Homo sapiens: one gene and its partner. The protein of the gene in region 1 interacts with the protein of each later gene in a pairwise test. Each region holds a gene or a part of one and is shown on either strand. Other genes may lie near its edges.

The links. Proteins that work in one complex are often made in the same cells at the same time.
Region 2: the proteins of GRIPAP1 (region 1) and RAB4A interact in binary tests that used the Homo sapiens proteins (3 or more experiments, as listed by UniProt).

What each region holds. Positions count from the first base shown.
Region 1 is NC_000023.11:48,975,744-48,978,264, forward strand, and holds part of GRIPAP1 (GRIP1-associated protein 1), read right to left. Parts: intron 621-2,521; coding exon 498-620; intron 369-497; coding exon 275-368; intron 1-274. UniProt on the Homo sapiens protein: Regulates the endosomal recycling back to the neuronal plasma membrane, possibly by connecting early and late recycling endosomal domains and promoting segregation of recycling endosomes from early endosomal membranes.
Region 2 is NC_000001.11:229,288,111-229,291,610, reverse strand, and holds part of RAB4A (ras-related protein Rab-4A), read right to left. Parts: intron 2,883-3,500; coding exon 2,768-2,882; intron 1-2,767. UniProt on the Homo sapiens protein: The small GTPases Rab are key regulators of intracellular membrane trafficking, from the formation of transport vesicles to their fusion with membranes.

The DNA.
Region 1 (2,521 bases):
AGGAGAGGAAGATGAGGCACAGGGAGAGGAAAGGAGAAAGTGGACAGAGAGACACAATGGAGAATGGAGAGTGGAGAGATGACAGAGAAAGAGAGAAGAGGGAGGAGGCGAGATCAAGAGACAGTGCTTTCCTGTTCTCCCCTCCACAGGCCATGGTCTTGTCAGTAGCTTCGCTGAGTTCCGAGAGGAGAGGAGAGAAGCCGCAGCACAGAATGGAGAGGGAGGGCCAGGTGAAGGCTGGACCAGGGCTGAGGGCCGGGGAGGGGACACTGACCGATCCGGCTGTCCATGACGTAGGTCTCAATGATGGCGCTCTTCCGGCAGAGGTCCTCTGCCATGGAAGCACTGCTCACTTCCAGGTGCTTCACCTGCAAGATGGCCCAGCCCACCTGAGACCCCTCTACTGTACATGTTCACACATGAGGCGGGCCCGGGCAGACCCCACACCCACAAGGGCACTTCAAGTGGGGATGGGCAGGCAGGCAGGCAGGCAGCACCTTCTCCTCCAGCATCCATTTCTCCTGCTGTGTCTCTGCCAGCCGCTGAAAGAGCTCAGCCACTTCCTCATCTGACAGCTCTGCTGGCCGAGGGGGCTGGGCTTGAGGGCTGCTGGATAAGGACTGCAGGAAAGAGAAGGGGAGAGGCCAGCCCCGGGCTCAGCACCACCGACCCCAGACAGGTGTCAGGGACTGGGGAGGAGAACCAGGCCAGAGGTGGGTGAGAGAACATGGGCCCTGAAGCTGGGACTGTTGGCCCATCTTGGTACCCTCAGACTCTGTTTTCTCCTCTGCCTAAATGGGGGTAGAGAGTAACCACATCAGAGCCTTGTGGAGAGGATTGAAGGAAGATCCCAAAGCAAATGAGATCTAACTTTCAGCTGACAGGAAAACTGGAAGAGAGGGACATGTTAAATCATACCACCAGGAAGCCAGCAGAAAAACCCAAAAGGTAGCATACTTCCTGTGGGGTGACTGGGCTGGCCTCTTCAACAAATTGGTCTCAGGAAAAAAGGGACCGCACTAAAGAGATTTAAGGGCCATAAAACAACCAGATGTAACATGTGCTCTGAATCTGAATGCTAGTTTTCATAAAACCAGCAAGAAAGGACATTCTGGGGCCAACTAGAGAAATCTGGTTAAGGTCAAAGTATCAGACGACATGAATTTTTTTTTTTTTTTTGAGACAGAATTTCACTCTTGTTGCCCAGGCTGGAGTGCAATGGCAAGATCTTGGCTCACTGCAACCTCCAACTCCCAGGATCAAGCGATTCTCCTGCCTCAGCCTCCCGAGTAGATGGAATTACAGGCACGCGCCACTACGCCCAGCTAATTTTTGTATTTTTAGTAGAGATGGGGTTTCACCATGTTGGCCAGGCTGGTCTTGAACTCCTGACCTCAAGTGATCTGCCCGCCTCGGCCTCCCAAAGTACTGGGATTATAGGCAGGAGCCACCGCACCCAGCCAATGACATGAAAATTGATCAAATTGGGAAGGTAGAGACAACAGTTGAATAAAAAACAGGTTAATCTCATCTAGGTTTTAAAAAGAGAGAGAATTCTGGAAGGGTATGAACTAAGAATTTATTTTATTTATTTATTTTTTGAGATGGAGTTTCACTGTTGCCCAGGCTGGAGTGCAGTGGTGTGATCTCGGCTCATTGCAACCTCCACCTCCCAGGTTCAAGCGATTCTCTTGCCTCAACCTTTCGAGTAGCTGGGACTACAGGCACGCACCACCACGCCCGGCTAATTTTTGTATTTTAGTAGAGATGAGGTTTTGCTATGTTGGCCAGGCCAGTTCTCAAACTCCTAACCTCAAGTGATCTGCCCGCCTCAGCCTCCCAAAGTGCTAGGGTTACAGGCATGAGCCACCGCGCCCAGCCCTGAACTAAGAATTTATAATGGTGACGTCTGGATGGTGAAAATATTATTTTTTTTTGACATTTAAGGTTTTTTTGTTTTTGTTTTTTTTTTAAATAGAGTCGGAGTTTTACCACGTTTCCCAGGCTGGTCTTAAACTCCTGAGCTCAAGTGATCCGCCCACCTTGGCCTCCCAAAGTGTAGGATTATAGGGATGAGCCACCACACCCGGCCAGACATTTAAGGTTTTAAAAAAATCTTTGCTCATTTGTGGTTTTTAAAAAATGTACTACAATGAGCACATACTATTTGTGGAACAATAAAAAAGTTATTTCCAAAGGAAAGTGGCTGGTAAGGAGGCTGACATGACAGCCGGCAATAATAATTAGTGATCATTACAAGTTGGAAAAAGGGACCTTCTCCTTGGATGGTGCACCTACTATGAGCCACATAATTTATGGCACCAGAGAAGGGGGAATTAGCCCACAGATGATTAAACAGAAAGTCAGAGAGAGAGAATGACTGGCCTGTCCTGCATGTCGCAATCTGAATCCAAGTTGGTGGGCTTGGGGAAAAGTTGACAAGAAAATATGTGTGCTGCGCCCAAAGTAGGAGATGGGTTTAGGTGAGGAGAAAAGGGGAGGGGTTCTCAGATTTTTGGGT
Region 2 (3,500 bases), on another chromosome or scaffold:
AACAGAAAACTCAAAAACCCTTACACTCATGGATCTTACAGTTTCTTTCTTCTCATTTCTACAAAAGGTTTAGGAAACTGAATTTCAGAGCTGTTTCTTCCCCGCTCTGACAGAGTCGTGAGCTCTTACAGAGCCCCTCACTTGTTCCCCTGGTCCTCCTGGAAGGGCAGTGCCATCACATACTGACTGCTGTCTTAGTCTTCCCTCACTGTCCCTCTAGACCTGTGCCATTCTGAGCTGGATCTTCCTGCTGGCTTCATTTTCCTCTTTCTGGGATCATGCCCTTGTCCTGGTGAAGTATATCCTCCTAAACTTTCTAAGAAAGTACATTTCTAAGAAGTCTCTGAGAAAGATAATCTTGGCTTCCTCCTCTTTCTTGCACATCTGTTGGTATTCAGCCTTTACTTGCACACTTACAGTTTGGCTAAGTTTAGAATTTTAGGTTGAAGAATTATTTCACCCTGAGTTTTGAAGGCAATGCTTCCATTTCTTTTAGCTTCCAATGTTGCTGTGGAAGGGTGCAAAGCAATTCCATTTTTCACACTTTATATGTGGCTGCTTTTTCCCTCTTGGAACCTTTCTGGTCTTCCTTACTTCATCTGTGGTGTTCTGAAATTTCACATGGCACGCTCTGGTCTGGACTTTTTCCTTACTATGTTTGATTTTAGGTGGGCCAATTAATCTGGAATCTCATTCCTTCAGTGAAACATTTTCTTCTATTATTCTCTCTGCTCTTCTCTCTTCTGGAACTCCTAATAGTCATTGCATCTTCTGGATTAATTCTGGAGGATTCTTTATGTCATCTCTCCCATTTTTCACCATGAGTTTATTTAACATATTATTCTGATTGCTCTTTTTAAGTATGACTTTGTTTCTATTACATACTCCAATGCAATCTCTGCTCTTCTTCCTAAGGATACTGTGGTTTTAGTGTGTTTTTCTTACTCCCTCAAAGTTCCAGCTTCTTTACTTTGAGCTCTCTCTTTTGCTATAGAAACTTTCTTCAAAATTCTGCCTGATCATTAAGAGCAAGGAATGAAAAAGTCTAAAAGAAGCTCTTTATGTGTGGGTGGAGCAGGTGGGCTTGGAGGGTTTCACTTTCAGATGACTGGATAGAGACTGGGCTGTTTGACTGGGAAAGCAAAATGTCACTACCTTCAAGCCTTTCCTTTCTGACTATTCATTTTTCTGCAGAGAAGGCTCCTTTCTCCTATGTGGGACATACACACCTGGCTGCCAGCGACCAGGGAAGAGGTAGGGGAGGTGGGTTGGGGGCCAGAGGCTTTCATTTTCACTTAATTTCCCTCTTTTCAGGCCTGACCCCATGCCCTCAGGTGGGCCTTATGACCTTGAGTCTAGACTCCATTTCAACGTAAAAGACTGAACCTCTTATTTCGTGTGTAAACATGAACCTCTGTAACCTCTACCTCCTGTAGAACCTGATGCTTCCAAATCCTGACCTTTTCTGGGACTCCAGAGGAAGAAATGGCTTCCCCCATTACAGTACTTAAGGTGGAGCTCCTTCTGCTGTCAGAGCACCATCTACTTCCTATCTTTAAGATTTTTTTGGAAATCTCTCAATCATAATTGTGCACTCACTCAATCTTGGCCTTTTTGAGTTACTTCAATTTCAGTTACTTAACAGACATTTCAGTGGGGTTCTGAGAGGGAAGACATAAATGTCTAATTGAATCCACCATGTTTAATCAATGCTTCCAGAAAAATGATGGTGATTAAAGGTGGTTATGGTATTTTTGAAGCAATTATTGAACTTCAATTACTTAATTAATTTTTGAGATGGAGTTTTGCTCTTGTTGCCCAGGCTGGAGTACAATGGCGTGATCTCAGCTCACTGCAACCTCCACCTCCCGGGTTCAAGCGATTTTCCTGCCTCAGCCTCCAGAGTAGCTGGGATTACAGGCACCTGCCACCACGCCCGGCTAATTTTTTTATTTTTAGTAGAGAAGGGGTTACACCATGTTGGCCAGGCTGGTCTTGAACTCCTGACCTCAGGTGAGGAGGTCTGCCTCGGCCTCCCAAAGTGCTGGGATTACAGGCATGCGCCATTGTGCCCAGCCAAACTTCAATTATTTAATATACGACATGTACTCAACTTCAAGTGAAATGTTTACAAATGGGGTGGATTTTATTTCACTGAATTATAAAACTATGAATATCAGTTCTGACTTTGTGCATCTGTGCAAAAACCACAACTAAAATATTAATCTATTTTCTTGCTTTAGTAGTTACAGAATACTAAACATGTAACCTCATTTGCAGTGACTGAAGTCATTCTGAGCCTCAGTTATGACCCTATTGTAATTAAAGTGTGGAGAGAATATTTTGTGGAGTGTGTATCAAACATCAGAACATGCTCTAGTTAATGTAAAACAAAACAAACCCTCACAAGGTTTTAAAAAGTTCTTCTTTAAAAAAGGAACACAGAAAAACAAGCTTGTGCTTTGATTTGAATCTAGAAACATACTGTACAATACACAGTGCCACATCCTCCTGAGAATGGGTCAGCCTCCGAATTATAATGCAGTTGCGCGGAGATCCTCCTGTATTCTTTAGTAATCCATGCTGCAGAGAGCTAACCTAAATTTTAGCTGTCTTGTCAATCAAAGTTTCCAAAAATGAAGTTTCTGAGATTAGGACAAGGAAGGGGTGTGTTGGGGAGGGAGTGAGACCTTATATATTGAGAGAATATCATCAATTATTTTAAATCAAATTTTCAAATATTTTTATTAAGTTAGAGAAAAGCTACCTGAATCGTTCTTGTCCTGCTGTATCCCATATTTGTAACTTTACATATTTACCACCAACATTTATTATCTTTGAACCAAATTCCACTCCTATTGTATGATTTGAGTCATCTTTGACTAAAAAAGAAAAACAAGAACAGCATATTTAATTTTAGAACATTAACAGGCTTATAGATTTAAACAAGTGACACTAAAACCAAGAGTTACATCAATGGGGAATGGACATTACTCTAGCCATTCATTTCTCCAACATTCCATTGAGAAGATGCATTTAGTTTTAAAGATAATACACACAGCCCCTATTCTCAAAGAGACATAAAGATTTTTCTCAAAACCCCCAAACAAATGATACATTTAAAAACCTATGCCTGAAAGTAGCCCTGCCATATCCGAACCACATCCAACTGTGCACTGTTAAGATGCTCACAGATGGTGACTGCTGACATACCAGCGTACCATTCTGAAGGGCATAACGCCCAGTGACAGGTGTGGAACTCAGTAAGTAATGAGGTGGAGACAGTTTCAACTACTGTATTTGAATGGTTAAATATTTTAAAGAAATAACAGTGAGTGGAAGGAAAAGCAGAGGAAAAGGGAAAAGGAGGAAAAAAATTGAACCAAAGAAAAAACACCCTCCAAAAAACCCCAAAACAAAGCACCCTCCAAAAAACCCCAAAATAAAACACCCTCCAACAAACCCCAAAACAATACACCCTCCAATAAACCCCAAAACAA